Linked DNA regions of Homo sapiens: all the other regions are linked to region 3. The links come from fine-mapping of genetic effects on gene expression. A gene starts in region 3. Each other region holds a variant in brackets. All regions are shown on one strand. Distances are between the middles of the regions. Region 1 overlaps NIFK-AS1 (NIFK antisense RNA 1). Region 2 has its middle 100 kb from the start of TFCP2L1. Region 3 holds the start of TFCP2L1 (transcription factor CP2 like 1). Region 4 has its middle 28 kb from the start of TFCP2L1.

What was found. PIP is the estimated chance that this variant, and not a neighbour inherited with it, causes the effect. A credible set is the group of variants that fine-mapping cannot tell apart.
Region 1: its variant is the best candidate, but not a certain one, in a credible set for the expression of TFCP2L1 in whole blood (TOPMed, PIP 0.56).
Region 2: its variant is the best candidate, but not a certain one, in a credible set for the expression of TFCP2L1 in skeletal muscle (GTEx, PIP 0.56).
Region 4: its variant is the best candidate, but not a certain one, in a credible set for the expression of TFCP2L1 in whole blood (TOPMed, PIP 0.89).

Annotation. Positions count from the first base shown.
Region 1 is chr2:121,675,047-121,683,130 of GRCh38, reverse strand. All of the region lies in intron 2 of NIFK-AS1 (NIFK antisense RNA 1), which reads right to left. Among named protein-coding and RNA genes, the nearest start is that of NIFK-AS1, 29 kb to the right of the region's middle. RefSeq lists an enhancer at 2,571-3,073. The variant C/T (reference allele first, on the strand shown) is at 4,129.
Region 2 is chr2:121,180,439-121,188,522 of GRCh38, reverse strand. No RefSeq gene overlaps it. Among named protein-coding and RNA genes, the nearest start is that of TFCP2L1, 100 kb to the left of the region's middle. The variant A/G (reference allele first, on the strand shown) is at 3,886.
Region 3 is chr2:121,281,189-121,289,272 of GRCh38, reverse strand. It overlaps TFCP2L1 (transcription factor CP2 like 1), which reads left to right and starts at 4,071. Exons shown (of 15, transcript NM_014553.3): 1 at 4,071-4,225; 2 at 8,002-8,084. The coding sequence starts at 4,164. RefSeq lists a silencer at 3,906-4,045.
Region 4 is chr2:121,309,091-121,317,174 of GRCh38, reverse strand. It overlaps the pseudogene RPS17P7. Among named protein-coding and RNA genes, the nearest start is that of TFCP2L1, 28 kb to the right of the region's middle. The variant A/G (reference allele first, on the strand shown) is at 4,372.

The sequences.
Region 1 (8,084 bases), 390 kb before region 3:
GTCCAATCCTAGCCATTAGGGCAACAACACAGCAGTAGGGGCTACTAGCGTCAGGAATAAGAACTCCTGCCCCTCCCCTGTCCTGGTATGATCTCACCATTGTTCCATCTGTGAGGAGCACCCTTTCTGCAGAAAGTAAAAATTGCCTTGCTGAGAAAATTAAATGTATGTTTGAGTGCTATTTCTTTGCAGCACCAGGGAACAAGCATTTTGCATTTCTAACAGTTTGGTGGCCCATGCAGGGACCCACTCTCCTCTGGGCGGTCTCCAGTCCTCTCTTGTAAGGAGGTGCCCCGCCGCCTCATTTCGGCAGCCTCAGGGGTGAGGAACCGAGACCTACCTGGTGTGATGAATAAACCCAGACTCTCAGCAATGTGGAAAGAAACTGGCCGGTGACCTGGGGTAAAGGATCCTTACATACCACGTGGACCAGACAACATCACGCACAAGCCAAAGAAGGAAACAGCGGAGGAGCTGGTAAAGTATTCCTTTGGTGGTAGGGACTAAGGAAAGAAAAACTGCAGGGGCAGTGAAACATTCCTTGGTTGGGACATACCAAGGAAAAAGAAGCCGTAGGGGTGGTAAAGCATTCCTTAGCCGGGACTAAGGAAAGAAAAACCACAGGGGGCAGTGAAGTATTCCTTGGTCGGGGTATCTTGGGGATTAAAAAGAGGCAAGATATTTCCGGTAAGGGAAATCGAGCCTCGCCCCAAAAGGTGAGACATTTCCAGTGAGGGAAATTGAGCCTCACCCCAAAAGGTGAGACATTTCCAGTAGGGGAAATTGAGCCTCACCCTAAAAGGCAAGACATTTCCAGTGAGGGAAATTGAGCCTCACCCCAAAAGGTGAGACATTGCCAGTAAGGGAAATTGAGCCTCCCTCCAAAAGGTGAGATATTTCTGGTAAGGGAAATTGAGCCTCACCCCAAAAATGGGAAATACCCCAAGTAAGGTACAGGATAAAAGAAATAAAGCTAGCAACAATAATATTCCCCCAATAATCCCCCAGGACTAATGTTAAAATATTAGAAGGATAAAAAAAAAAAAACTTAAGAGAGTCAGAGAGAGAAAGAGACAGAGAGTCAGAGAGAGAGAGAGAGAGAGAGAGAGAGCTAGAAGTAGTAAAGAGAAAGCAATGTACCCTATTCCTTTAAAAGCCAGGGTAAATGTAAAACCTATAATTGAAAGTCTTCTCCGTGACCCTATAAAACTCCAATACTGCCTGTAAAGAAGCCAGACGGGTCACACCAGTTAGTGCAAGACCTTAGAGCTATTAATCAAGTCCAAACTACCCACCCTGTTGTTATGGTAATAGATTTAAAAGATGCCTTCTGGGTTTGTCCGTTCACGGAAGACAGCCAGGACCTATTTGCCTTTGAGTGAGAAGACCCTCACTCTGATTGAAAATAGCAATACAGATAGACAGTCTTACCTCAAGGGTTTACGAAGTCTTCAAATTTATTTAGTCAAATATTAGAACAAGTCATTTAATTAGCAAAGGTAAATGGCAAATTGAGCTTGAATGGACTGAAAGTATCATATCCTTGCCTCTGCCGGAGACCAAACAAGAACTTAGAAAACTTTAAGATAAGTCAGATACTGTCATCTATGGATAGCCTCTTATGCCCTAAAAACAAAACCCTTATACAAAAAGCTCACGCAAGATGGGCAAAACCCCCTCCTCATTTGGCAATTACCAGAAATCCAACAGGTGGAAAGGTTAAAACATCTATTAGTAACTGCCCCTGTCCTAGATTTACCCTCAAGTAGCTATTCCATCTTGTTGTCAGTGTAAACAAGGGCATATCCCAAAAGCACGGAGGCCACTGACAACCAGTAGCCTTCCTATCAAAAATCCTTAACCCAGTAACCCGGGGATGGCCCAAATGCATTCAATCTGTAGCAGCAACTGCTTTGCTAACTGAAGAAAGTACAAAAATAACTTTTAGAGGAAACCTCATTGTGAGCACACCTCACCAGGTCAGAACTATCCTAAGTCAAAAAAGCAAAAAGGCAGCTTACTGACTTAAGAATATTAACATATGAGGCCATTCTGTTAGAAAAATATGATTTAACATTAACCACTGATAATTCCCTTAACCCTGCAGGTTTCCTAACAGGGGATCTAAATCTTAATTAACTACCATACAAAGGTCCGACCAGACCTAGGAGGAACTCCCTTCAGGACAGGATGATGGATGGTTTCTCCTGGCTGATTGAGGGAAAAAGACACAACGAGTATTCAGTAATTGATAGGGAAACTCTCGTAGAAATAGAGTTAGGAAAATTGCCTAATAATCAGTCTGCTCAAACGTGTGAGCTCTGCACTCAGCCAAGCCTTAAAGTACTTACAGAACCAGGAAGGAACCATCTATACTAATTCCAAGTTGATTTGGACTAAAGAGGTCTTAGTAATAGCAAAGGATAATTAAAAATCCCAAACTTACATGGTTTTCAACAAAAGTAAAGTTTGCTAAAAGTTAACAGTGTAACATGTATTATCCTAACTTCAAATCTTGTGGCCTTAGGGAAGTGGAGACTGCAGCGAGCCAAAATTGCACCATTGCACCCCAGTCCAGGTAACAGAATGACACCTTGTCTAAAAAAAAACAAACAAAAAACCCACAAAACTCTTAAGATGGGGAAGACATTGGTTTAAAGTTTACATAACAATCCCTGCCTTTGTTTAAGATACTTTTCCTGGCAATCTCACTTCGACTGAATCTTTACCCATATCCTTCTTCATCTCAGCAGAGAATGGTGCTTAGATCTAAGTGCTGTGCCTTTGGGATGTAAATTTTCACTTAAGAGTCATGTCTTTGGAAGTGCAAATTAAGGGTTATGTTGCTAACAGTTGTTTAGGGCTCCATAGTCTAAAGAGGGGAGAGAAACTATTTAAAAACTGGCAAATGGTTTCTGGGTGCGGTGGCTCACGCCTGTAATCCCAGCACTTTGGGAGGCCAAGGTGGGCGGATCATGAGGTTAGGAGTTTGAGACCACCCTGGCCAACATGGCAAAACCCCATCTCTACTAAAAATACAAAAATTAGCCAGGCACAGTGGCAGGCGCCTGTAATCCCAGCTACTCGGGAGGCTGAGGCAGGAGAATCGCTTGAACCCAGGAAGTGGGTGTTGCAGTGAGCTTAGATCACACCACTGCACTCTAGCCTGGGCAACAGAGCAAGACTCCATCTCAAAAAAAAAAAAAAAGAAAAAGAAAACCAAAACCAAAACCAAAACAAAAAAACCCCCTGACAAATGAAGAAGTTTATCAAGCTACAGACTCTGCTTTTGTTTGTATGTCTGTATGTATATATGTTCATATATGCCATGTGGATGTGATATTTCATTACCAAAATACACGAAAACTCTAATTAATTGGGTTAAAGAAAAAGTAAGCACTTAAATTATATATTTTATGAGAAAAATATAAGCTAACTCAAATGCCTTTTAGTTCAAATGATTTGTGTAAATTGTTGGTAAATAAGACTAGTTTAATACTGTTGATTTACTGAAAACAACCGTGTCCTCTGATTAACAAAATACCCGTGTATTTAACTTTAGAGTTCTGGCTAAAGTGTTAAGTTCCTAACATTTGTGGAATGTAAACATGATTACAAAGAAAAAACTGAAGATGATGGTGTAAGCACCCAATGGGTTCACCTTGCCCACTGCCTAGACAGAGCTGATTTCTCAAGACAGGGGAATTGCAATAGAGAAGGAGTAATTCACACAGAGCCAGCTGTGCAGAAACCAGAGTTTTATTACTCAAATCAGTCTCCCCGAGCATTTTGGGAGCAGAATTTTTAAGGACAACCTAGTGGGTGGGGAGAACCCAGTGAGCCAGGAGTGCTGATTGGTCAGGTCAGAGATGAAATCATAGGGAGTTGAAGCTGTCTTCTTGCAGTGAGTCAGTTCATGGGCAGGGGCTACAAGATCAGATGAGCCAGTTTATCAATCTGGGTGGAGCCAGCTGATCCATCAAGTGCAGGGTCTGCAAAATATCTCAAGCACTGATCTTGAGAGAAATTTAGGGAGGGTCATAATCTTTTAGCCTCCAGCTGCATGACTCCTAAATCATAATTTCTAATCTTGTGTCAAATGTTAGTCCTACAAAGACAATCTAGTCC[C/T]TAGGCAAGATGGAATGAACAAAGACAGCTTATATGCTAGAGGCAAGATGGTCAGTTAAGTTAGATTTCTTTCACTGTCTCAGTTATAATTTTGCGAAGGCAGTTTCTTTTTTTCTTTTCTTTTCTTTTTTTTTTTTTTTTGAGATGGAGTCTTGCTCTTGTTGCCCAGGCTGGAGTGCAATGATGTGATCTCAGCTCACTGCAACCTCCACCTCCTGGGTTCAAGTGGTTCTCCTGCCTCAGCCTCCCAAGTAGCTGGGATTACAGGCACCCACCACCACACCTGGCTAATTTTTTATATTTTTAGTAGAGAAAGAGTTTTACCATGTTGGCCAGGCTGGTCTCTAACTCCTGACCTCAGGTAATGCACCTGCCTGGGCCTCCTAAAGAGCTGGGATTACAGGCGTGAGCCACTGCTCAGCCCTGCAAAGACAGTTTCAGTAGCTAACTTTGTTTAATGAGCTACTCAAGCATACTTCCTAAGAATAAATAAAACTTTATTTACTTTTTTATGTTTTTTATTATTTACCATAAGGTTTACTTGCAAAAGAGAATAAATAAAAGTTTATAAATGAGCTTTACATTGTTTAAAAAATCTTTTTCAATAACTTAGAGTCATGTTATGTCAACCTGGGTAATAGCTAATCATAAAATGTCTGAGTCATCTATATGATACAGAAAAGCTAAATATTTAGTTCTGTTAAGAAACAAAAAATTGTGGAAACATCTTTCTAAACATTAGAAAATAGTTTTCATCACAAAAACTGACATAAACCATCTCAAATTACTTGCTTCCAAGGTTTTTCTTTTTTGTTTGTTTGTTTGCTGTTGTTTTTCTTTTACAAGCCCAGAACTAACATCATAACTTCCTAGGATTTCCACTGGAAATCAGGGTTAGGCTGGTTCCTTATTTTTGCAATTGCAAATTGTATTGCTATGCACATATGTGTGTAAGTCTGTTTCATACAATGACTTCTTTTCCTTTGGGTAGATACCCATTAGTGGGACTGCTGCATCAAATGGTAATTCTACTTTTAGTTCTCAAAGGATTCTCCATACTGTTTTCCATAGTGTTTGTACTACATTCCCACCAGCAGTGTGAAAGTGTTCCTTTTTCACCACATCCACATCAACATCTATTATATTTTGATATTTAAATTATGGCCATTCTTGCAGGAGTAAGGTGGTATTGCATTGTGGTTTTGATTTGCATTTCCCTGATAATTAGTGATGTTGAGCATTTTTTTCATGTTTGTTGGACATTTGTATATCTTCTTTTGAGAATTGTGTATTCATGTCCTTAGCCCACTTTTTGATGGGATTTTTTTTTTTTGCTGATTTGTTTGAGTTCCTGGTAGATTCTGGGTATTAGTCCTTTGTTGGATGAATAGTCTGTGAAAATTTTCTCCCACTCTGGGGGTTCTCTGTTTACTCTGCTGATTATTTTTATTTTATTTTATTTTTATGTTTATTTTTTTTGAGACAGAGTCTTGCACTCTCGCTCAGGCTGGAGTGCAGTGGCGTGATCTCAGCTCACTGCAAGCTCTGCCTCCAGGGTTCATGCCATTCTCCTGCCTCAGCCTCCCGAGTAGCTGGGACTACAGGCGCCTGCCACCACACCCGGCTAATTTTTTGTATTTTTTAGTAGAGATGGGGTTTCACCATGTTAGCCAGGATGGTCTCAATCTCCTGACCTTGTGATCCACCCACCTTGGCCTCCCAAAGTGCTGGGATTACAGGCATGAGCCACCATGCCTGGCCTTATTTTATTTTATTTTATTTTATTTTTGAGACAGGGTCTCGCTCTGTCGCCCAGGCTGGAGTGCAGTGATGCGATCTCGGCTAACTGCAACCTCTGTCTCCCAGGTTCAAGTGATTCTCCTGCCTCAGCGTCTCAAGTAGCTGGGATTACAGGCATGCACCACCATGCTCAGATAATTTTTGTATTTTTAGTAGAGATGGGGTTTCGCCATGTTGGCCAGGCTGGTCTCGAACTCCTAACCTTAGGTGATCCACCCACCTTGGCCTCCCAAAGTGCTGAGATTATAGGCGTGAGCCACCATGCCCAGCCAAGTCTGCTGATTTTTTTTTCTCTCTGCGGAAGCTTTTTAGTTTAATTCGGTCTCATCTATTTATTTTTGTTTTTGTTGTATTTGCTTTTGGGTTCTTAGTCATTAACTCTACCTTAGCCAATGTCTAGAAGAGTTTTTCCAATATTATATTCTAGAATTTTTATGGTTTCAGGTCTTAGATTCAAGTCTTTGATCCATTTTGAGTTGATTTTTGTATAGGGTGAGACATGAGGATTAAGTTTCATTCTTCTACATGTGACTTGCCAACAATCCCAGCACCATTTGACCATTTGTGGTTAGGGTGCAGCCTTTGTTGAACAGGGTGTCCTTCTCCACTTTATGTTTTTGTTTGCTTTGTCGAAGATCAGTTGGCTTTAAATATTTGGCTTTATTTCTGGGTACTCTATTCTGTTGCATTGATGTACACGCCTATTTTTATACCAGTACCATGCTGTTTTGGTAACTATAGCCTTGTAGTATAGTTTGAAGTCAGGTAATGTGATGCCTCCAGATTTGTTCTTCTCACTTAGTCTCGCTTTGGCTATGTGGGCTCTTTTTTGGTTCCATATTAATTTTAGGATTTTATTTTTATAGTTCTGTGAAAAATAATGATGGTATTTTGACAGGAATTGCACTGAATTTGTAGATTGCTTTTGACTGTATGGTCATTTTCACAATATTGATTCTACCCATCCATGAGCATGAGATGTGTTCCCATTTGTTTGTGTCATCTATGACTTATTTCAGCAGTATTTTGTAGTTTTCCTTGTAGAGATCTTTCACATTCTTGGTTAGGTATATTTCTACGTATTTTATATTATTTTTTACAGCTGTTGTTAAAAGGGTTGAGTTCTTGATTTGATTCTCAGGTTGGTCACTGCTGGTGTATAGCAGTGCTACTTATTTGTGTACATTGATTTTATATCCTGAAACTTTACTGAATTCATTTATCAGGTTTAGGAGCTTTTTGGATGAATCTTTAGGGTTTTCTAGATATACAATCATATCATCGGCAAACAGCAATGGTTTGACTTCCTCTTTACCAATTTGGATGCCCTTTATTTCTTTCTCTTGTCTGATTGCTCTGGCTAGGATTTCCAGTACTATATTGAATAGCAGTGATAAAAATGGGCATCCTTGTCTTGTTCCAGTTCTCAGGGGGAATGCTTTCAACCTTTCCCTGTTCAGTATAATGTTGCCTGAGGGTTTGTCATAGATGGTTATTACCTTGAGGTATGTCCCTTCTATGCTGATTTTGCTTAGGGTTTTAATCATAAAGGGATGCTGGATTTTGTCAAATGCTTTTTCAGCATCTATTGAGATGATCATATGATTTTTGCTTTTAATTCTGTTTATGTGATGTATCACATTTATTGACTTGCATATGTTAAACCATCCCTGCATCCCTAGTATAAAACCCACTTTATCATGATGTGCTATCTTTTCGATATGCTGTTGGTTTTGGTTAGCCAGTATTTTGTTGAGGATTTTCCCATCTATGTTCATCAGGGATATTGGTCTGCATTTTTGTTGTTGTTGTTATGTCTTTTCCTGGTTTGGGTATTAGAGTGATACTGGCTTCATAGAGTTTTTTTTTTTTTTTTTTTTGACGAAGTTTTGCTCGTGTTGCCCAAGCTGGAGTGCAGTGGTGCAATCTTGGCTTACTGCAATCTCTGCCTCCCAGGTTCAAGCAATTCTCCTGCTTCAGCCTCATGAGTAGCTGGGATTACAGGTGCCTGCCACTACGCCCAGCTAATTTTTGAATTTTTAGTAGAGATGGGGTTTCACCACGTTGGCCAGGCTGGTCTTGAACTCCTGACCTCAAGTGATCTGCCTGCTTCAGCCTCCCAAAGTGCTGGGATTATAGGTATGAGCCATTGCACC
Region 2 (8,084 bases), 100 kb after region 3:
GCGAGAGTGTGGGACAGCCTTTGGGAAACAGATAGAGCGGGCATGGGGATGGCAAGGTGGCTGGTGAGGCTGGGCTGCCAGGCAGGCAAGAGGCTGGAGGACTCCATCCTGAAAGCCTGGGGAGCCACGGAAGGAATCTGATCAAAGGATCAGCCTGATACAAGTTGTGTTGTGCACCCATCATCCTGGAGACTTGTAGGGGTGGGCGAGCTTGGGTCTAGGATTGTGGTGGGAGGCCAGGCAGCAGGACAAGCATGCCCTGAGGATGTGATCGACACAGCTCTGACTCCAAAGTCCCCCACAGATGTGTGGCCTCTGAAGTCCTGGGCAGCCAAGGAGGGAGGTGGGGGAGGGCATCCTGGGGAGCCGCATGTGTGGGCTGAGCAGAATTTATAGCTGACTCAGGGACCCGCATGGGTCAATGGCTCTAGAGGGTTGTGTTGGGCAACCTGCAGCTTCAGCCAGAGGGCCAGGGACAGTGCTAGTGCATGGCAGGGGAGCAGGCTGTGGCCAGCCTCTCACCCTACTATGGATTCCCGCCCTGCCTGGGCCCCCAGAGCAGCTGGAGATGAATGAAGATGCTGTCAGTGGCCCTGCAGTCATAAAGGCCCTGGGGGCCATGTGACACCCAGAATGAAATGCCAGCCCTGGGTGTGGGGCGGAGGCGCCGCAGATCTTCAGGCTAAGGTGAAACCTGCTGCATCGATGAGTGCCTCTGAGCCACATGCGTTTGTTCAGGTGGATGGGATGAGGCAGCTCAGGGGGAAATTGAGGGCAGAGGGCTCGGGGTTGGGGGCAGTCAGGGTGTCAGAGAAGCTCGAGGGCGGTCCTCTGGGCTGCACCCTCGCCACTTCTGGAAAGAGGGAACATGTTGTACGTGCAGGACCTCAACCAGGAAACCCGAAGCTTGTTGATCTTGAGCGCCTCCCGGAATCTTGGCCCCAATTCTGGGCTCAGGACCCAGGGTGTGCATCACCCAGCCTGCAAAGGCTGGATCTCGGGGCTCGTGGAGGACAGACAGATTCTGGGTAAATGTGGCTCCATCCAGTGCCATCGCCAGCCGGGATGCCAGCGCCTCTTGAGGGACAGCTGCAAACTGCCAGGTGTTCTGATTCCAGCCACTGCCCCCCGCACCCCATTCAGGCCTCTGTGCTGGTTGTTAAAATTATTGAGCACCTTCTGGGTACCAGGCCTTGTGCAGAGCACATTATGGACTTACTCCATTCAATCCTTGGAGAAGTTCCTCAAGGGGTCAGCCTCATTTTACAGAGGACGGAATTAAGGGTTAGTTATCCAAGGAGTAAAGGAGGCAGAGATGCCAGCTGGGTGTGAGATGAAAATGGCCCAGGACTTCAATTTTTTTTTTTTTAAGAATGTCCTTCGTATTGCCAGGCACAGTGGCTCACCCCTGTAGTTCCAGCACCTTGGGAGGCCGAGGCAGACAGATCACTTGAGACCAGGAGCTTGAGACCAGCCTGGCCAACATGGTGAAAACCCTTCTCTACTAAAAATACAAAAATTAGTCTGGTGTGGTGGCACACACCCATAGTCCTAGCTACTTGGGAGGCTGAGGCAGGAGAATTGCTTGAACCCAGGAGGCAGAGGTTGCAGTGAGCTGAGATCACGCCACTGCACACCAGGCTGGGTGACAGAGACTCTATCTCTAAATAAATAAATAAATAAATAAATAAATAAATAAATAAATGCCCTTCATACCTTCATATGTCACAGAATAGAGGCCTGAGAAGTTCTCACATCCATTGTCTTTACCTGGGCTCACCCAAAATTCAGGGAGCCTGAGGCTTTTGGCTTCTGTATGGAAACTTAAGGGCGTGTGACCCCGGGGGATGGAGCGATGGACAGGAGAGTGAAGCTGGAGAAAGGAGGACTGATGGCAGATAGCACTGGTGGAGAGCCCTGGGCCCCAGTTCCCAGAAGCTGCACAAACTCATCCTGGGGGAGGTGGGAGGAGACTTTGTCCCGGTGCTCCTGCCTCCTGCCTCTCTGGTGGTGATGTGTGGTGCCCAGGCAGGGCGTGCTCCACGGGCACGCGCACAGAGCTGTCTGCAGACAGAGGCGCCTGGAGCAGGATGCAGGTGAGGCACAGAGGGCTTGCTGTGGAGCCGCATCTTGCAGCTGGGGGCACTGAGGCCTGAGAGGCTCTGACAGGCCATGCACTGGTGTCTGAACCAGGACCTGCTCGAGGTCACCTTCCTCCCAGGCCACTGAAGTGACTGTGGTGGTGAGAGGTAGGCAGCGGCCTGTCTGCCTATGTGTGTGTGTGTGTGTTGGAGAAACAGTATTTGGACTGATGTGCAGGTGGCCAGGAAATGGAGCACGGACACGGTCCTGTCTAGCAAGTTCTCAGGAGCATGTGTGCCCCATATAAAGAAGGTTGGCTGCAGGGCTGCCAGTCCAAGCCCAGAGTGTCCAGGCCCCCATCCCAGGATAGCCCAGCCCAAGCCAGGACATAGTGCCAGTCACTCTCAGGAAGAGCAGGGGACAGTGACACAGCACATGCCCTGGGCTGTTGAACTGTTCCCACTGAGTCCTCAGACAGCCCAGGGGCCCAGGGAGAGCAAGAATGATGAGTAACCAGGCTACGGCATCCAAATAAACACCACCCCAAACCCCAGACCAAACCACCTACAGAGCCTGCCAGCTGCAGCTGCCAGAGGAATCAATACCCATTGTTCTCCTAGACAAATGTTCCCTCTGCACTTTTGGCCACTGTGTTCCAAGGGATGGCTAGGTGTGGGTTTACATCATGTGGATGGACACAGCTTAATGGGATCTGTTCCTCAAATTGCTCCACCCCACAACCTCCCGCTGCAGGGTCATGAGTTGAAGACAGCTGCCTGGCTGGATCCGGGCGAAGAGCAGGCACCAGGCCTATGTGGACTCCAGTCCCTGAAAGCTGGGTGACCTTGGCCTTGGGTTCCTCGACTACTCAAGAGGGGTGAACATCTGCAGCTCTCGCTATCTCATAGGGTTGGCCTGAAGGTTACAAAGATTCCTGGGAAAAGCAGCCAGCAGGAGTAAAACACACAGTGTTACGGCTCCTTATCTAATTGCAACGGGAGGCATCCAGCTTAGGGCAAGGAGCGTGGGCTTCCCAGTCGGACAGGCCTGGGCTCACGCGCTGGCCTTTTCCATCAAGGCCTATCACCTCTCTCAGCTATGGGTCAGAGAAGTTAGCCTGCAGGACTGTTGGGAAAGTTGCAGCTGCATGCCTGGGTCTTAGCACGGTGCCATGGCCGTGAGAATTATAATGTGGCTGCCATGGTCCAGGCACTGAATGAGCTCAGAGGACCCCTTGCACAGTGCCTGACCAGGTCAGGCCAAGCATCGTGGACAGAGCCGGGGCCACATCCTCTCTGTGCTTAAAGGCCAAAGTCAGCACACCCACCTCTTCCATGGACCTCTCTTAAATTCTTCAAGTCCTCCTTGTGGCCCCTCCTCCAAGCTTCTAGATCCCATGTCACCTATTCCATTCTTTTTAGCTCTTAATCATGGCAGGGGACATTTGCTATTGGATGGAGAGGGGGCTACCCAGTATGTTTGCCCCCTTCTTATTTGAGAATAAGGCCCTATGATGTGAGTATTGGCAGGAGATAAGCCACCCACTGTGGAAGCTGAAGGGGCAGGCATTCTCTCACCTTGTTCCTGGGCAAATGGACCCAGATGTGGCTAAAAGGACACTTCCATCCAGGACTCAGACTTAGGTGGGTGACATTAAGTGGAGGGAAAATGAGATGCCATTTCCTGTGGCAGTGTCCACAGGTGGCAGCAGTGTCCACAGGTGGCAGCAGTGGCCCTGGTGTCCCTCTACGGCGGGAGCATGAGCTTCTGGTGGGCCTTCCCCACAGGCCTCCAGGTGGGACC[A/G]TGGCCAAGCTTTTGCCCCTGGGCCTCCCTTGGTGGCTGCCCACTTCCTAAGCCCGTTCTCCCACCTTCCTGTCAATTCTCAGCTCCTCAGTCACCAGCGTTGGGTTTCTGTTGCTTGCACACCCAACATGCACGTTTGCCTTTGCATAACACCAGCTGTTCCAGGTGAGCAAATAATCTTCCCCACTGGACTTCACCCCCTGGGGGCAGAAATGCTGCCTTACACTGTGGTGTATCACCCAGTAAGTGCCTCCTGGTGCAGGCCATCTGGTGAGGGATGCTTGGACTCGGCTGCCAAACACATCTGCGATAGGATCCAGGTTCTATCATTTACTAAACTGGGGCTCTGAGTAGTTATTTACTCTCCATGAGCCTTGGTTTTCTCATCTATAAAATGGGCACCTACTTCCTAGGATCTTGACTTAAGAAAGTAGACATGAGTATTGTGATGGTGGTGGGGTTGGTGGGGAAGAGAGAACAGAATTTAGGCTGCTCGTAAACCAGCTCTCATGCTGGGACTGGTCTGGGAATGAGGACTGGGATGGGGGCAGGGGTGAGGCTCCAGGATGGGGGTCTGAGGGCCTATGGTGGGCAGAGGCAGGGTGCCTGGTAATTAATTCTATTTTTCTTATTGTTAGATTTGCACTTCGCCATCTTTGCTATTTAAATCTTAGTTGTTGATGGAAGTTTCCAAAGGCTTATATTGCCTCTCCTGAAACAAAACACGAGCTCTTTGAGGAACAAGACTTTGTATTTTCATCTTTGTACCCTCACAGCACCTAGTACGTTGTAGTTACTTAATACAGTTACTTAATACATATTTACTAATTAGATTCTAATTCTGCAGGGTCAGTAGGTTTCATGCTGCCTGGACTTTCCAAAAAGGATGTTTGCTGACGGGATGGCTTGTTGGAGGAGGAAGATTCTGTAGAAATTCAGTTCCCTTGTATGTTCCCAGCCTCTGGCAGGAGTTGGGGATAAAATTGAGCCCGTGGTACAATGGGGAGACAGGTAGGTATTTACTGTCATTACAGAGTCATCTGTGTTTAAATAATTATTTAGGAATGCATATACTCTGTTGTTCAGCCTATCCCTTAAGCCAGGTATCATACAAGTGCTCTAAATGTCTTCTCTCATTGAATTGTCACAAAGCTCTTCGAAGGTAGGTGTTATTATCAACCTGATTGTATAAAAGTAGAATTTGAGGCTTAGGGGCCTGCCCAAGTTCAAATAGCAAGTAAATAGTGGAGCCAAGGTTTGAACCCAGATGTGTCTGACCCCCAAATCCATTGCCCTAACCACTGCTTTGTGCTACCTTGATAGAGACAAACTCCTTGTTCAGGAAACCCAGAGGAGGGAATACCTGAATTGGCCAGGAAAGTCCAGGAAGCCTTCCTGGAAGAGGAGGTGCTTAGACTGAAATTTTAAAAAACCACACTTTTAAATGGACATGTTCAAACACCCGCAAAAGTAAAGAAGATATGAAATAAATCTTTAAGAAACGAGGCAGAGTTGGGGAACAGGTGCCTGCCAGAGTCCAGGATTGTTAAGCCTTGTGCATCCTGGGGACACTCAGAGACAGGTAGGAGGCCTTGCAGAGTGTAAGGTGTGACCAGAGGCAGTGTAGGGGTCAGATGGAGCTGCAGCGGTGGACACCCCTTTGGAGCTTGAGTTACTTAATTCAGAAGATGGCTGTTCCTTATGTTTGGACTTCCACCCATTTGTTTGGGGCAAAAAGAAAGCATCGGCACGTGGCACATGGCAGGTGAGGAAACGTGCTGTTTTTGGATTTCCCCAGCAGTGGGTAGGTAAATAATTTCTTGCAGTTTGGCACAGTTGGGTTCAAGGGTGAGGACTTCAATCTTTCAGCACTGATGGTTTGAGGCAAGTGATGGGAATCTGAGTCACTCTTGCAAAGCCTTAGTTCAGGGGAGGCTGAAGGACTTCATGGGAGCTGGGGCAGGCAACAGAACTGGGTAGAGCTGGGTGTGGCCCTGGGTTTTACAGCCATGGTCCCTGGGCAAAATCGTTTTCCCTCTTGGCATGTTTAGACAACAGAGATGGTTGTTGCTTGGATTAAAAAAGGTTTTATGGTTGGTTATAATTTTTGACATTGGAAATGTCCCCACGTGTGGTGGAGTGGTCAAACTTCCTGAAGAGCAGAGGAGGAGAAAATTTCCTGGGATGTCTACAGCAACAGAAATTGTCACTACGCCAGGATACAGCCAACATCACCATGTACCTGGCCTAGGGGCAATTTTGCAGTGTTCAGACTAATTTTTCCCCCTTTTTTCTTTTCTTTTATCTTTTAAGATTTATGTAGAGCCACTTTTGCTGTGTTGCCCAGGCTAGTCTCAAACTCCTGGCCTCAAGCAATCCTCCCTCCTCGGCCTCCCAAAGTGTTGGGATCATAGCCCAGCCCAGACTCATTGTTCATTCATTCTCTTACTCATCCACTTATTTCTTCTACTTGTTCACCCCTGATTTATGGCCTTGCCTTTGTTCTGGTAATTTTTCTGTTCTGATGTCCAGGTTTATACCTAGATGAAGAGAAAAGAGAAATAGCTAAGAAGGAATTCTCTGACATTCCTTCTTAATTTCCTCTGCCAGCCTGTCTTTCTCAGGTGAGGCTTTAAGTATTTTGGCAAGCAAAGAAACACAAAAGACAAAGCATAGCTGAACTTCACTAGCATGTGTGATAAAATCACTCAGTCTCCCTGTGGGCAAGGTGAAGGGAATATACTTTATTTACTTTAGCCGCATCCCACAAATTTTAATACTCTATGCTTTCATTCAGTTAAAAATACTTCCTAATTTGATCTGTGGTCTCTCCCTTTCCCATGAGTTATTTAGAAGTGTGTTGTTTGGTTTCCAAATGTTTGAGTATTTTCCAGAAAATTTTCTATTACAGATTCCTAATTTAATATCATTATGATCAGAAAACATACCTTGTGTGATTTGAAAACTTTTAAATGTATTGATACTTCTTTTATGGATTACAGTATTGTCTGTTTTGGTAAATGATTCTTGGGGACTTGAAAAAATTATATTTTCTTGTTGCCATTGTTGGGTGGAACGTTCAATTAGTGTAGTTGCTAGTGTTGTTCAAGTCACTGTATAGTTACTGATTTCCTGTCTACTTGTTCTATGAATTATTGAGAGAGAGATATTGAAATATCTAATGATAATTGTGAATTGGTCTATTCTTTAAGTTCTACCAGTTTTTCATTTATGTTTTTTTCAAGCTCTGTTATTAGGTGCATATTTAAAATGATAATGTAATCTGGAAGTAGTGGGCCCTTTATCATTTAAATAATGGCCTTCTTCATCCTTAGTAATATGATTTGCTTTGAAATCCATTTTTTTCTGATATTCATAGATCATTCTAGTATTCTTTTGATTGTGTTAGCATGGTATATCTTCTTTCATCCTTTTGCTTCTGACTTATTTGTGTCTTTATATTTAGAGTGCAATTCTGGTCAACAGGCTATAGTTGGGTCTTGCTTTTTTATGGCAAAATATACACAACACAAAATTCATCATTTTAACTATGTAAAGGGTACAATTCAGTGGTATTTAATACATTCACAGTGATGTACGACCATCATCATGTTCAAGAACATTTTCATCATACTACAAGAAAAAACTCTGTACCCATTGAGTGGTCACTCCCCATTTCCCACTCCCAGTCCCTGGTAACCACTATTCTACTTTATGTCCCTGTAGACAAGTTAAGCAATTTGAACTTTTAGTGGAGATGCCTAAAATAATTTTTTCATAAAGTCCAATAATTTTACTAGAATATATCTTGATATTGGCCATATATTTTACTTTTCCTAGGTATGTGATAATGCTGTTTCACTATGTAGTTATAAAATATTTTATTTCAGGAACATTTTCTTGAATTACAGATTTTAGTGTTTGCTGTCTTCCATTCCTCATGTTCTTCTTGAGAGCCTCTTATTACATATGTTAAATCTTCATTGCCAATCAGTTACTTTCTTTGAATCCTTTGTATCTCTTTTAAAATATTAAAAAACATTTTCCTCTCTACATTCTATTTATCTGAAGGCATCACTGTACTTGTTCTTTCTTGTTTTCTTCTAATGTAATCTTCATTTTTAAAAAAGTCTCTTTTTTCTAATTATATCCTGAGTTCTGCCCATCTCAAATCTTCCTATTCGCCAATCACCTCATTT
Region 3 (8,084 bases):
AAATTCTGGACAACTTGGAGCACCAGCCTGGCCCTGAGCTCATATAGGATCCACTGAGGCCTCACAGCTTAACTCTGTCCTCTGCTCACTGCTTCCCTCGTTCAGCGCTGCTGATCCCAAGATAAACTGTGATAAACATGTGTGCACACGCTTTCCCTCTGGCTCAATTCCGCCCTCTACGTTGGCCATCCTTCAACTCCTATTCATGCCTCAAAACCATCTTCTCAGACGTGAATCCCCAGTATTCATCGTGATCTCTTTCGAGAGCAGCTGGGAATCCCTTGTGGGGCTGCTAAGGGGGTGACACCTGAGTACTCAGTGGGCCCCTTTCTGCTGCCTCTGCAGGGACCCCGGGCTGATCCTGGGAGCAGAGGACATCTGGTCACAGCACCTTTGCCCAGTGTGGGGTGAAGAAAGGAATGCCGGGCCTTAAGACAGGAATGGATGAGAGTCGGAGTATGGTTGTTGAATTTACAGGCCTGGCCTCAAATCCCAGCTGTGGCAGTCAGCCTCCCAAGCCTGTTTCTTCAATCAGAAGGTCAGGTGATGTCTCTTCTTCTCAGTGTCGGGAGATGACAGTGCATGGCTCTGGGTCTGGTGCATAGTAAAAATCAATGTTCCCACCACATGGGAACTGTGAACATTCACAGAATAAAAGAGGAACTGGCAGGCCATCTCCTGCACATCTGTCTCCTCCTCCTCAGCAGCCTGGAAGCCCCAGGGGTCCAGACTAGGCCTAATTGGGCCCTGTAACACCCAAGAGTCATGGGCAGAAATATGCATTTTTGTTCACACAGTGTGACTCAAATGCTGTCTCTGTAGGCATTGCTGAATTCTACCCTCCCATAGTTAAAAACCTACAAAGAGAGAGAAAGTAGGCAATGACCCAAAATACAGAGAGTCATACTTAGGTCATGAGAGCCATCATCCCTGAGAAGCTAAACTCACCTGAACCTAAGCTTCACCACAACCATGAAATGAGCCCTTATTATTCCCAATAGCAAAACCCAGATCCACAGGGCCCAGCGTATCATTTTTCCATTTGTATGAAACAAACCAGCCCACACCTCAGTGGCGTAAGGCCACAGCCATCCATTTGCTCTCGAGCCTGCATTTTGGGCAGGGCTTGGGTGGGCAGGGCTTGCCTCAGTTCTATGAGGTGTGGTTGGAGGCAATCCCCTGGGGCATCTTAGATGGGCTCTGCGGAGTGGCCAGAGGGATTGGAGGCTGACCAGGTCTCCCTCTCCAATGGGGCATTTGGACTCTACCTGGTGGCTCAGAGCTCTGGGAGAGTTAAGAGAAGCTGCCTATCATGCTTGTAATCCCAGCACTTTGGGAGGCTGAGGTGGGTGGATCACCTGAAGGTCAGGAGTTCTAGACCAGCCTGGCCAACATGGTGAAACCCCGTCTCTAATTGAAATATAAAAAATTAGCTGGGTGTGGTGGCAGGCACCTGTAATCCCAGCTACTCAGGAGGCAGAGGCAGGAATATCGCTTGAACCCAGGAGGCAGAGCTTGCGGTGAGCTGAGATCCTGCCATTGCACTCCAGTCTGGGCAACAAGAAACTTCGTCTCAAAAAAAAAAAAAAAAAAAAGAGAAGCTGCCTAGGGGCCAGCCCAGAAGGGAAAAGCATTACTTCCTCTGCATTCTATGGTTAAAGTAAGTCACAGGGTCAGCCCAGGCGGAAGGGGGAGGGGAGGGAAACAGACACCACCTCTTGATGGGAGAAGCAGCATGAGGTCAATTTACTCCACCCAAGGTCATAGATTCAGATGGAGCTAAGTAGTAAACCCAGGTCTGAACCATCTAATAATATTGACTGCCCTTCCTCCAGGCCTTTGCAGGAGCGTCTACTGGGCCGGAAACCTCCCTCCATCTCCACAGATTGGTTTCACTTCCACTCACCCATCCATCAGGAGATATCACTTCATGCTGGAGCCTCTTCGGAGCTCCAGAGTCCTCCTCTGTGTTCCCAGGGCAGCCTCTACGTCCCTGACCACACTGTACTGTCACTGCTGCTTACCCATGGACCTCTCCTGTTAGAACTCAAGGACGAGTCCAGCAAAGGACATGTTCTTTCCAGACCACCCCAGAGTGTCTCCCATTTAAACAATGGGTTTGTCATGGACCCTGATGGGGTGAGGTTGGTTGTGGGGGTCGGTGTTCAGGATGTTTCTTTGGAAGTTCCCTTAAGAGTAACCCCTGGGCAAGGAACTGGAAGGAAGCAGGAGGGAGACCCTGAGCAGGACACAGGTCTTGTGACAGCTTTGACTGTCTTCATGGGGAGTCCTGGGGCTAAAATACCCCATCAGCACTGTCCCCAGTCAGGCAGAGATGGCCAAGCTTTTATACTTCTGCTGGGATAGTCATTGGGATGTGGGCTATCCCAGGAGGGACATGACAGAGGGCAAGGCTGCTCTCTGAGCAGGGGCAGTTCCTGGAGAAGCCGATGGCTGGGGGACTGTCTGCTGACAGCACCACCTGAAGCCGGGGAAATATTCCCATTCTCCTAACAGGGCAGAACAGTGGGGGGCAGTCCTTGAGGGCTGCACAGAGGAAGTGGTTTGCCAGTTGTGACCTATGGCTGGAGGGAGGAGGGCAGGAACAGCAGAGTGAGGGAGGGTTTTACCCACATCCATGCGTGGGGGAGTGGGGAGTTCTGGACCAGGTCCCCAAGGGATGTCATTTGACTGGATTAATACTCAGGGACAGAATCCCCATCTCCTCTGTGCCAGGTGCTGTGCCATGTACTGGAGAACCGGATAGCACCTGGATAGGGGTCAGGGCTCCAGGGAACTCCACTCCCTCCTAATGGCCCTCCCCTCCACCCCATGACCCACTGTCTACACTGCTGCCAGACTGATCTTTCCAAAAGGCAAATCATACATGTGACTCCTCTGCTTAAAACACAGAATAAAATCCTAGCTCCTTGTCCTGGCCTGCCAGGCCCTCTGATCTTCCCCGCCCTCCTCACCTCATCTCCTAAGCTCTCCTCAAGACCAGCCATGCCAAGTAGGTCTTCCTCAAGGCTTTGGCAGTCACTGTTGCCAAGGGGGTAGGGAACTATGCCTGGAACTATTTTTCCCTAGGTGATGTTCACAGAGATGCTTCCTTTGCATCCATCAGGTCTCAGCTCAATGTCACCTCCTCCAGGAAGGCTTCTCTGATTACTCTTTTGGTGCATTCCTTTTTTCTTTTTTTATGTTTACTCAACAAACATTTATCTTAACTATGTCCCATGCACTGTTCTAGGCAGTGCAGGTAACGGGGTGTTAAGCGAGCCAGGCCCTGTCCTCTTGGAGCTTACAGTCTAATGGGAAAGACAATCAGTACACAAGTAAAAATAAAAAATAAAAAAATGTCGGCCTGACTCGGGGGCTCACGCCTGTAATGCCAGCACTTTGGGAGGCCAAGGTGGGCGGATCACCTGAGGTCAGGAGTTCGAGACCAGCCTGGCCAACATGGCGAAACCCCGTCTCTACTAACAATAAAAAAATCAGTCAGGCGTGATGGGGGGCGCTTGTAATCCCAGCTACTCAGGAGGCTGAGGTAGGAGAATTGCTTGAACCTGGGAGGAGAGGTTGCAGTGAGCCCCGAGATCGCGCCACTGCACTCCAGCCTGGGTGGCAGAGCGAGACCCCGTCTCAAAAAAAAAAAAACCAACAAAAAAACCCCCATGATTTCAGAGCGTCTGAAGTGCTATGAAAAAACAAGAGCGAGGAAAGGCGACAGAGAGGGCCTAGGCTGGAAATCTCGGAGCCGCTCTGGAGACCGGCCCTGGGCGTAGAGTGGGGAGCAGAGGCCAGAGGGGCCGTGTGGAGCGGGTTGGGGGCGGCAAGGGTCACCTGAGCCCCACATCGGAGTTTGGGGAGAGCACCCGGCCGGCCCTAGAGCCCTCTGGTCTGGCCGCCCCGGAGGCGCGCTCGCTCGCCGGAAAGGCACGCGCGGGAGTCAGCCAGGTGCGGCTGCCGCGGGGAGCCGCCCTCCGGGCCGCGCTTCCTGGGGGGCGGGTCTCACCGCTGTCCCGCCCCTGGGCCGCCGATAAATGCGCCGAGCCGGCCGGCACCGCGGGTTCGGAGCGCGAAGCCGCCGCTGGGTCCTCGGCGCGCCCCGCGTCTGCGCTTGCTGCCGCGCCCCGGTCGGCGCGCTGGGAGTTCCAGCCATGCTCTTCTGGCACACGCAGCCCGAGCACTACAACCAGCACAACTCCGGCAGCTACCTGCGGTAAGGGCCGCGCGCGGTCCCCGCGGGTCTCGGGCCGGGCCGGCGGGCCGGGCGCCGTTGGACGTCCAGGGGCGGAGAGGGGGCGCCCCTGCTGGGCCCTGGCCTCCCCGCTGTCCGCCCTCTGGGGACTGAGAGACCCGCCCAGCGTCCCGCCTAGGGACTGACAGATGGACGCCGGCGGGACCCGACGTGCGGAGTTGGGGGCCCGCTGGGGAGGCGAGCGCGCAGAGCCCTATGTCTGCGAGGGCTCCTCCCAGGCGGCAGAGAGGGTGCAGGGCGCGCACCTGCCGGCCCGCCGCCTCCCCTGGCCCGTCCGCCCCCTGCGGCCCTCCTCTCCCCCGCGTATCGGAGAAGCAGAGGAAACTTCCTGCCAGCAGCCTGGTGCCCGGCCCGGGGAAGTTCGTCCCCTGCTCTTTGCCCGTCTCCGCCGGGGCCCCTCTCCCAGCCTCGCGCCCTCTGCAGTGCCCTTCCTTGGACGAGGGGCGGGCGGCGGGCTCGGAGGGGCAGGCCGCCCCACTTCCCGCGATGGTCTTGCGCGTGTTCGCCCGAGGCCCGCGTGGTTATTGCCCTTGATGGAAATCTTTCTTCTGCTGGAGGGATTTGAGTAGTGCCCTTCAGAGGGGAAAGTAAGTCCTGCGTGTTTTGCACAGTTCCCCACAGGCCCCTCTTAGCAGTAGGACCCCGTGTGCTCTCGCTCCCGGAGGATTGTTTTTCCCTGTTCTGCTGCTGGCCGGGACTAATGGGCAGTCATTTCACTTTGTGAACTCGCCTGAACCAGCTTTAGCCTGTCCTTATTTCCATCTTAGTCACAGTTTATGAAATGTGCCTAATTTAACCCAAAGGGCATTTGATATGGGCTCAAGGAAAATGAATGATGAGGCCGAAGGAGTCACAGGCATTGACAGCCCCCATACTAGAGCTACCTTTAAGTGCTAGTTTTGGCCCCAAGAAGTTCCCACTTAGATCTTAAAACGTTATTTGTAATTCCTGGCTGCTGGTAGGTATTTGTCCTCCCTGAAGACATCCCCTTTTCCTGGAGGCGGGGGAATGATTGGGTTTAGTGGATGTATCTGCTGTTTTTATTCATGGGCCAAAGTAGTCGGAGATGGCAAAGGTCTAGAGCCTTAAAGGCTGACAGCCACCCGGCAGACCACGGTGATGTCACCAGAGGGAAGCCCAGGAGGAGATGTTAATCACCCAGAGATTAAGTGTCCATTCACTTGCAAGAAATGCTACAATGGAATACATTTTTACTGTACTGAAGTTTTAGTTGTAGCTTTGGCTAAGTTTTAGTTTGCTGCCATTAAGTATGTTGCCATATCTTAACAATGAGTTTGAAGGTGACCCTGAGTTGAAGGTGAGTGTACTTGAAACTTCCTAGATACCTACAATGTCCTCACCCCGTTAGGGAACAATTCTCCCTTGCCTGGGAGGTACAGTTCTGACATCTGCTACCGAGATGGAAGTTTGTCTGGAGTAGCTCAGGTACCTTTTAGGATTTGGTGAAAGGAGGAGGGTGAGCGTTGGGAGTGGGTGGTGCTGTAAAGCCATATTGGCTTCTGGGGTCATCGGGGGACCATGGATAAAGAAGTCCTTGCCCTTTTTTATTTCACTTCTTGGAAGCTGGGAGTTTTGCCCTCAGTGAGGGCCAAGGTGGCGGTTTGTGCATATGCCCCTGGTCCCCTGACTCTAGAGGGAGGGTCTGGTCCTTTTCCTTGCGTTTTTTGTATTTTATTTTTGGTCGTCTCCTCACTTGGCAGAACTTCTGCAAGCTGTCTGACCTCACCAGGGTAGAGGCCTTTACTCCCTTCCCCCTTTCTGTTTGATGTTCTCGTGACTTTTATTCCTTGGCAAATAAAGATGCCAGGCTTGAAACAAGTTACTGTTGAGGGATGGTTCTTAACTTCCTCTGCCCACCCGCCCCTGTTTAAAAAATTTAAAGGCAGCAGTCCGTGGATTATTAACTTGACATGGTCTGGGCAAACATGAAATTATGCAATCCTCAGTGTTCCTAGAGAACCACCCGGGCTGGGAGTGTGCCCTGCTCTGACAAAAGGAAGACGCCCTGTGGGGGAAAGTCGAGACGGCCTTGCACCCTTATTTTTCGGCAGTGGATGGTGACGGGGGAGGCCCACACAGGGCAGGTTTTCCAGGTGTGTGCTCAATGCCAGGCTTTTTCTTCTCAAAATTGATGAGATGTTGATGGGGTGTGTGCCGGGTTTGTGTTGTAGAGACGCTTGTTTATGATGTGCGAGGAACAGATTGTACCAGTGACTCTGTTTATACAGACAAGTGGGGTCAGCTAATTGGATTCCTAGTCAGGGACCCACGAAGGGAAGAGGGTTATCAAGATAAGAGCACTGGCACTTATTTGGCACTTGTTTATGTGCTGCTCATAATTTAGAGACCTTACACAAGCCTTGCCTGCCTGTAGGTCATTCATGTTCTCAAGGAATTCTTTGTCCCTTGTAAGGGCATTTTTAAAATGCTGGGTTTTTTGTTTCTTTCTTTTTCCTTTTTTTTTTTTTTAGAGATGGTGGGGTCTCACTATGGTGCCCAGGCTGATCTCAAACCCCTGGCTTCAAGCAGTCTTCTCACCTCAGCCTCCCAAAGTACTGGGATTTCAGGCATGAGCCACTGTTCCTGGCTTAAAAAATACGTCCAGAAACAAGTTCCTCCCTAAGTCGCAGGATGATGACTTCATTTTTTTTTTTTTTTTTTTTTTTTTAATGTGGAGAGTTTTGTTAAGAGGTGGAGGAAAAGAAACTTGGAGCAAGGATTTCAAGATTTCCCACTTGGATAAGAAAATAGACTGGGCTGGGCGCGGTGGCTCACACCTGTAATCCCAGCACTTTGGGAGGCCGAGGAGGGTGGATCACCTGAGGTCAGGAGTTAGTGACCAGCCTGACCAACATGGTGGAACCCTGTCTCTACTAAAAATACAAAAATTAGCCAGGTGTGGTGGCTCATTCCTATAATCCCAGCTACTCAGGAAGCTGAGGCACAAGAATTGCTTGAACCCGGGAGGTGGAGGTTGTAGTGAGCCGAGATCACGCCACTTGCACTCCAGCCTGGACAACAAGAGTGAAACTCCGTCCCCCCCGCCCCCGCCCAAAAAAAACAACCACACAAACACAGACTTGAAGCCAAGGTCCTTCCTTCCTGTTTGCCTTTTGGACAGATTAGAATGACCCTGAAAACAGTGTCCAGTTGTCCTCTCTTTAGAAGGGATGGAGGAATGTCTCAACCTGGGTACTCAGGGAGGGAAGGAAGTGGTTTGTTCATTTGCATAGTTTACAGAGCCTGGAGGACAGAGTTGTATTGCTATGAGAAGTGGCCGGTAAATGGAATTGTTGATTAAAAAATAAAAATGTTTGTTTAGATTTTTATTCTAAAAGTGAAACTTTATGAGTGATCGCTTGTGGATAGAAACCAAATAAATGTCTTAGAGGTCCCTTTGCTGCTAGCCTGTCTCTGGCATGGAGAGGATTTCTGTAGATGTTAGCTAACTTTGCCCTTTTACCTCCTTGATGGGCTGATTGAATCAGTGTTTTGGGGGGTCATTGAGTGAAACTAGAGTCACGAAGGAGCGGTTTCCTCTGTTTTAAAGCATCTGGAGTATTCGAGGGTTGCAGGAGTGCAGCCAGCACCCTGCGATGCGCGTGCCGTGTCACCCTGGGCCCCGGTGGTCTGCGTCGTCTCTCTAGCTTCGCCCTGGCTCTGTGCAGGAGCCCCCTGGGGCTCTGCTCCTGACCTCTGCTTCCCGTGTGTTGCAGTGATGTGCTCGCTCTGCCCATCTTCAAGCAGGAGGAACCCCAGCTGTCCCCCGAGAACGAGGCCCGCCTGCCACCCCTGCAAT
Region 4 (8,084 bases), 28 kb before region 3:
ATCCTCCTCCTAGGCAGTCCTCCCCCAACACCTGAGGCCCTGCTTTTTGTCTATCTGTGCCTTATTAAAAGAGGAACCTAGGCTGGGCACGGTGGCTCACGTCTGTAATCCCAACACTTTGGGATTCCGAGGCGAGTGGATCACCTGAGGTCAGGAGTTCAAAACCAGCCTGATCAATATGGTGAAACCCCGTCTCTACTAAAATTAAAAAATTAGCCGGGCTTGGTGGCATGCGCCTGTAGTCCCAGCTATTTGGGAGGCTGAGGCAGAAAAATCGCTTGAATCCGGGAGGCGGAGCTTGCAGTGAGCCAAGATCGTGCCACTGCACTCCAGCCTGGGCAACAGAGCGAGACTCCGTCTCAAAAAAAAAAAAAAAAAAAGAGGAACCTAGTGAGGCTGGAAGCTCAACCTACACTGTGATTCAGCGACCTGTAGAGTCAAGTCTGCTCCCGAGTTCTGGCTATGTCAATCCCAAAGCTTTAAGACATAAAAGATTCTCAGTGGTTCTTTGCTGGTGGTAACTTGGAGATGTGTGGTATTTTTGGTTGTCAAAAATTATCAGAGGGGCCGGGGTGGTGGCTCACACTTGTAATCTCAACACTTTAGGAGACTGAGGCGAAAGGATTATCTGAGCCCAGGAGTTTGAGATCAGCCTAGGCAACATAGTGAGACCCCCATCTGTATGAAAAATTTAAAAATTAGCAAGGTGTGGTGGCACGTGCCTGTAGTCCCAGCTACTTGGGAGGCTGAGTCGGGAGGATCATTTAAGCTCAGGAATTTGAGGCTTCAGTGAGACTTGATTGTGATACCTAGGTGACAAAGCAAGACTCCAACTAAAAAAAAAAAAAAAATTTGCCTCCAAGACTTGTATACTTTTTGATGGTATGATGGTATAAAGGGAAATTATTTTAACTTAAATCTTTAATTATTTGCACACTAAATTGTACTGTGTGACCTTTCTAAATTATCTTTTAAATTCTTGTAATTATTTTGCAGAGTTCTTAAGAATAGAGACAATTTTAATTCTTCTGGTCTGTGTCTCTTTTTTTTTTTTCTTCTTGCTCTGTCACCCAGGCTGGAGTGCAGTGGCACACTGAAGCCTTGACTTCCCAGGCTCAAGCAATCCTTCCATCTCAGCCTCCAGAATAGCTGGGAATACAGGTGAACATTAGCAGGCCCCGCTAATTTTTGTACTTTTTGTAGAGACAGGGTTTCGCCATGTTACCCAGGCTGGTCTTGAACTGCTGGGCTCAAACAATCCATCCTCCTCACCCTCCCAAAGTGGTGAGATTTTAGGGCTGAGCCACCTCACCTGGCCTGCCTTTTTCCCCACGTTTTTCTTGCCTTCTTGCACTGGCTAGGGCCTCTAGCACAATGCTTAGGGAAAGCAGACATCCTTACCATGTTCTTGATATCAGGTGGAAAACGGGGTACATGTTTACACTGAAATAAACTAGATTCCAGGCCATAAAACAAATCTGAATAATTGTTTCTTTTTTGAGACGGAGTCTCACTGTTGCCCAGGCTGGAGTGCAGTGGCATGATCTTGGCTCACTGCAACCTCTGTCTCCCTGGTTCAAGTGATTCTCCTGCCTCAGTCTCCCCCAGTAGCTGAGATTACAGGCATGTGCCACCACGCCCAGCTATTTTTTTTTTTTTTGTATTCTTAGTAGAGACAGGGTTTCACCATGTTGGTCGGGCTGGTCTTGAACTCCTGACCTCAAATTATCCGCCTGCCTTGGCCTGCCAAAGTGCTGCGATTATAGGCATGAGCCACCGCTCCCAGCCACAAATCTGCATAAGTTTTTTAGAAGGACTGATATCATGCAGGGCATGTCCTCTGACCACAGTGGAATTACACTGGAAATAAATATCAGTAATATTGTCCACACCATGTAAAATGCAGAAACCTTGGCTGTGCTTATGTAGATACATGTACTCTCCCCATCCTTTAGTAATTGTCATATGTATTACCTTGACATATGCTGTAAACCCCATACGCAATGCCATGATTTTTGCTTTACACAATCAAATGCATCTTAAAGTCATCAAGAGGACCAGCCTGGGCAATATGGCAAAACCTCATCCCTACAAAAAATACAAAAATTAACTGGGCCTACAGGTGCACCTGTAGTCCCAGCTACTTGAGAGGCTGAGATGGGAGGATCTCTTGAGCCTGGGTGGTGGAGGCTGCAGTGAGCTGTGATCACACTATTGCACTCTGGCCTGGATGACAGAGCAAAAGCTTGTCTCAAAAAAAAAAAGTCAGCTGGGTGCGGTAGCTCACACCTGTAATCCTAGCACTCTGGGAGGCTGAGGTGGGAGGATCACTTGAGGTCAGAAGTTCAAGACCAGCCTGGCCAATATGGTGAAACCCTATCTCTACTAAAAATACAAAAAAATTAGCCGGGTATTGTGGTGTGTGCCTATAATCCCAGCTACTCAGGAGGCTGAGGCAGGAGAATTGCTTGAACATGGGAGGCGGAGGTTGCAGTGAGCCGAGATCGCGCCACTGCACTCCAGCCTGGGTGACAGAGAAAGACTCCATCTCAAAAACAAACAAACAAACAAACAAACAAGAGAAAATTGTATATTTATATTTATACACTTTTTTTTTTTTGAGATGGAGTCCTGTCTAGGACAGAGTGCAGTGGCACAATCTCAGACTCACTGCAATCTCCACCTCCTGGGTTCAAGTGGTTCTCCTGCCTCAGCCTCTCCAGTAGCTGGGATTACAGGTGCCCACCACCATGCCTGGCTAATTTTTGTGTTTTTAGTAGAGATGGGATTTCACTGTCTTGGCCAGGCTGATCTCAAACTCCTGACCTCAGGTGATCTACCCACCTTGGCCTCTCAAAGTGCTAGGATTACAGGTGTGAGCCACCTCGCCTGGCTATATTGATACACATATTTAGGATTTCTGGTGCTCTTCATTCCTTCCTAGATATTCTTTCTAGTATTATTTCCTTTCAGCCTGACAAACATCTTTTTGCATTTATTATAGTGCAGGTCTACTAGTGATTAATTGTCTTTGTTTTCATTTATTTGAAAATATCTTTCTTTGGGGGCGGGGGTGGGACGGAGTTTCACTCTTGTTGCCCTGGCTGGAGTGTAATGGTGCGATCTCGGCTCACCACAACCTCCGCCTCCTGGGTTCAAGCAATTCTCCTGCCTCAGCCTCCTGAATAGCCGGGATTACAGGCATGCGCCACCACGACCAGCTAATTTTGTATTTTTAGTAGAGACAGGGTTTCTCCACGTTGGTCAGGCTGGTCTCGAATTCTCGACCTCAGGTGACCTACCTGCCTCGGCCTTCCAAAGTGCTGGGATTACAGGCGTGAACCACCGCGCCCAGCCAATTCTTGTTTTTTTTCAAAGATATTGTTCCACCGTCTTTGACTCTCATTGTTACTGATGAGAGGAACACACATTTTTTTATCCTTGATCTTCTGTATATTATGTATTATTTTTCTTTATTTCCAAAGCTTTTGCTTTATGTTTGATTTTCACCTATTTGACAATCATATGCCTTGTGATTTTTTGGTATTTATTTGGTGTGGGGTTTGCTGAGCTTCTTGAATCTATAAATGTGTGCCCACAAAATTTGAGACAAGGTTGGCTATCATGTCTTCAAATATTTTTGCCACCTCATTTTCTTTCTCTTCTTTTTCCAAGACTCCAAATACAAGGGTACTAGGGTTTTTAAATATTGTTTACAGTTCCCTGAGATTGTGTTTTTATTTTCAATTTTTTGTTGTTGTTCTGTCCTTCAGATTAGATCCCTTGATCTAGCTTCAATATCACTTATACGTCTGTCATTTATAATCTGCTGTTAAGCCTATCGAGTAAATTTTTGTTTCCGATGTTATGATTTTTAGTATAAAATTTTTAATTGATTCTTTTTTGTAGTTTCTGTTTCTCTGCTAAAGTTTTAAATTTTTATGTAGTCCCATTTGTGTATTTTTCCTTTTGTTGCCTGTGCTTTTGGTATCATTACTAAGAAGTCATTGCCAAATTCAATGTCATAAAGTGTTCCTCCTATATTTTTTAGAAGAGTTTTATAGTTTTAGCTCTAACATTTAGGTCTTCTATTCATTTTGAGTTAATTTTTGCACATGGTGTAGGATAAGGACCCAACATAATTCTTTTGCTTTTGGATATCCAGTTTTCCCAACACCATTTGTTTAAAGTACTGCCCTTCCCCTATTAAATGGTCTTGGCATCCTTGTCTGAAATTATTTGGCCATGTATTCAGGGCTGATTTGTGGGCTCTTTATTCTATTGTATTGTTCTATGTGTATATGTTTATGTCAGTACCACGCTGTTTTGATTACTGTACCTTTGTAGGAAGTTTTGAACTCAGGGAATGTG[A/G]CACCTCCAAATTTGTTCTTTTTCAATATTATTTTGAATATTCAGAGTCTCATGAGATTCCATATGAATTTTTTTTTTTTTTTTTTTTGAGATAGAGTCTTGCTCTGTCACCCAGGCTGGAGTGCAGTGGCACAATCTCGGCTCACTGCAAACTCCGCCTCCTGGGTTCAAATGACTCTCCTGCCTCAGCTTCCCAGGTAGCTGGGATTACAGGTGCACACTACCACACCTGGCTAACTTTTGTATTTTTAGTAGAGATGGGGTTTTGTCATGTCAGCCAGGCTGGTCTTGAACTCCTGACCTCAGGTGATCTGCCTGCCTCGGCTTCCCAAAGTGCTGGGATTACAGGCGTGAGCCACCACACACAGCCCCAGGAATTTTCTATTTCTGCAAAATACAATGTAGGGATTTCAGTGTGGATTGCCTTGAGTCTGTAGATCACTTTTAAGTAACATTGGCATCTGAACGGTGTTAAGACTTCCAGTCCATGAACATGGAATGTCATTCCACTTATTTGTGTCTTCTTTAATTTCCTTCAGCAACATTTCGTAGTTTTCAGTATAAGTTCTTTGCCTCCTTGGTTAAGTTGATCCCTAAGGATTTTATTCTTTGTGATACTGTTATAAATGGAATTGTTCGCTTAATTTCATTTTTGTATTGTTCATTGTTAGTGTATAGAAATTAACTGATTTTTGCCTGTTGATTCTGTATCCTGCTACTTTGTTGAATGCATTTAGTAGTTTGTGTATGTGTGTAATCTTTAGGGTTTTCTACATGTAAGATTATATTGTCTGCAAACAGAGATAATTTCCCTTCTTCCTTTCCAATTTTTATGCCTTTTACTTCTTTTTCTTGCCCAGTTTCTCTGGTTAGGACTCTTCCAGTACTATGTCCAACAGAAGTGGTGAAACCAGGCATCTTTGTCTTCTTTCTGATCTTAGAAGAAAAGCTTTCAGTCTTTGGCCATTCAGGTTAAGTTAGCTTTGGATTTTTCATATCTGGCTTTTAATATGTTGAGGTACTTTTCTTCTATTTCTAGTTTGTTGATTGTTTTTGTCATGAAAGGTTATTGAATTTTGTCACGTGGTTTTTCTGCATCAATTGAAATGGTCATTTTTTTTCTCATTCTGTTACTATGTTGTATTACATTAATCCATTTTCATATGTTAAACCATCCTTGGAGTTTTTTATTCCAGAAGTAAATCCCATTTAGTCATAGTGTTCCTTTAATATGCTGTTGAATTTGGTGTACCAGAATTTTGTTGAGGAATTTTGGATCAATATTGATAAGCAATATTTGTCTGAAGTTTTATTTTCTTGCAGTGTCTTTGATGTCATGGTAATGTTGGCCTTACAGAATGAGTTTGAAAATGTTCCTTTCTCTTCAATTTTTTGTAAGAGTTTGAGAAGAAGTGGTGTTAGTTCTTCTTTAAATGTCTGGTAGAATTCACCAGTGAAGCTATCTGGTCCTAGGCTTTTCTTTGTTGAGGGGTTTTTGGTTCTGAATCCAATCTCCCTCCTACTGATAGGTCTTTTCAGAGTTTCTGTGTCTTCATCAACTCTTGGTATGTTGTGTGTTTCTATGAGTTTGTCCACTTCATCTGGGTTATGTAATATTTTTGGCATGCAGTTATTCTAGTACTCTTTTTTTTTTTTTTTTTGAGACAGGGTCTCACTCTGTCGCCCAGACTGGAGTACAGTGGTGCGATCTTGGCTCACTGCAACCTCCGCCTCCCAGGATCAAGCGATTCTCCTGCCTTAATTTCCCGAATAGCTGGGATTACAGGTGCACACCACCACACCGGGCTAATCTTTGTATTTTTAGTAGAGACGGGGTTTCACTATTTGTCCAGGCTAGTCTTGAACTCCTGACCTCAAATGATCCAACCCCCTCAGCTTCTCAAACTGCTGGGATTATAGGGGTGAGCCACGGTGCCTAGCCCTCTAGTACTCTCTTATAATTTTTTTTCTGTAAAGTTGAATGGCCCTTCTTTCATTCTGATATTAGTTATTTTACATTTCTCTTTTTTTCTTAAGTCTACTTAGTTAAAGGTTTGTTTTCAATTTTGTTGATCTTTTCAAAGAGCCAGCTCTTGGTTTTGTTGATTTTCTGTATTGTTTTTCTATTCTCTATTTTATTTATCTTTGCTTTAATCGTTATCCTTTCTATCCTTCTGCTAGGTTTGGGATATTTTTCTAGTTCCTTAAGGCGTAACATTAGGTTGTTGATTTCAAATCTTTCTTCTTTTTTAACGTGTTTACAGCTATGAATTATCTTAGCGCTCTTTATACTGCATCCCATAAGTATTAGTTTGTGTTTTTATTTTTTATTTTTTGCTGTTGTCTCAGGCTTACTGAAAATATTATAACATTGCAGAAAGAGTCAAAACAGTTCCACGTGGCATTTTAAAATTCATCCCAACTTCAGGCTGAGTGACCTGCAGGTTGGATAGACTGCCAATGTCCAAAAGCTTTAGCATTTCCCCAGTGTGAGAATTTACTTCAGTGACCTCCTAATCCAGGACTGAGACCTCAGGAACAGAATTATCTCTCCTTTTTCTCTCCTCCTCCTAAAATGTGATGGAGATATTTCTTACTGGGACCCTCTGAATCCTCTGCATCAGATGTGTGACATAGCCTGCTATCTTGTTGCAGGACTTCCTACTGGAGATAATAGCAATCTCCACACACACACACACACACACACACACACACGTTCATGTGGAAGTTGTTGCCCAGGCTCATGTAGTGCTTTTCTGTGATGACCCAGGCCACCTTATTCACGGCTTTGGTGTGAACATGACTCATCTTGGTGGGTCCTTGGTGAAAGAGGAAACCTGTTGTTGTTGTTTTGTTTTGTTTTTTTTTATGGTAGCAACGGCCTTTATTGGCTGCAGCAGGAAGTGGAAGAGGGGATATGGTGTCTGCAGATTAGATCACTGCCCTCCAAAAAAGCAGAAACCTGTTTTCATTTTAATTTGTCTAAAGATATTTTCTATTTTCCCTTGTGATTTCTTCTTTGACCCATTGGTTGTTTAAGAGTGTGTTGTTTAATTTCCACATATTTGTGGATTTTCAAATTTTCCTCCTGCTATTGGTTTCTAGTTTCATTCCAATGTGATCAGAAAAGACACTATGCATAATTTTAATCTTCTAAAATGTATTAAGACTTATTTTGTGCCCTAACATATGATCTCTTCTGGATAATTTTCTTTCTGTCTTTCTTTCTCTTTCTTTCTTTTTTTTCTTTCTTTCTTTCTCTCTCTCTCTTTCTTCCTCTCTCTTTCTTTCTTTCCTTCCTTCCTTCTTTCCTTCCTTTCTTTCTTTTTTCCTTTATTTCTTTCTTTGTTTCTTTCTTTCTCTCTTTTCTTTCTTTCTTCTCTTTCTTGCTCTCTTTCCTTTCCTTTCCTCTTACCCCCCCTCCCTCCCTCCTTTCCTTCCTTCCTTTCCTCCCTCCCTCTTTGCCTCCCTCCCTCCTTCCTTCTTTCCTGCCTTCCTCTCTCTCTCTCTTTCTCTCTCTCTCTCTCTATTTCTTTTTTTTTGAGAAAGGATCTTGCTCTGTTGCCCAGGCTGAAATGCAGTGGCATGATCATGGCTCGCTGTAACCTTGACCTCCCGGGGTTAAGTAATTCTTCCTCTTTAGCCTTCTAGGTAGCTGGGACTACAGGCATTTGCCACCACCACACCTGGCTAATTTTTTAAATTTCTTTTTG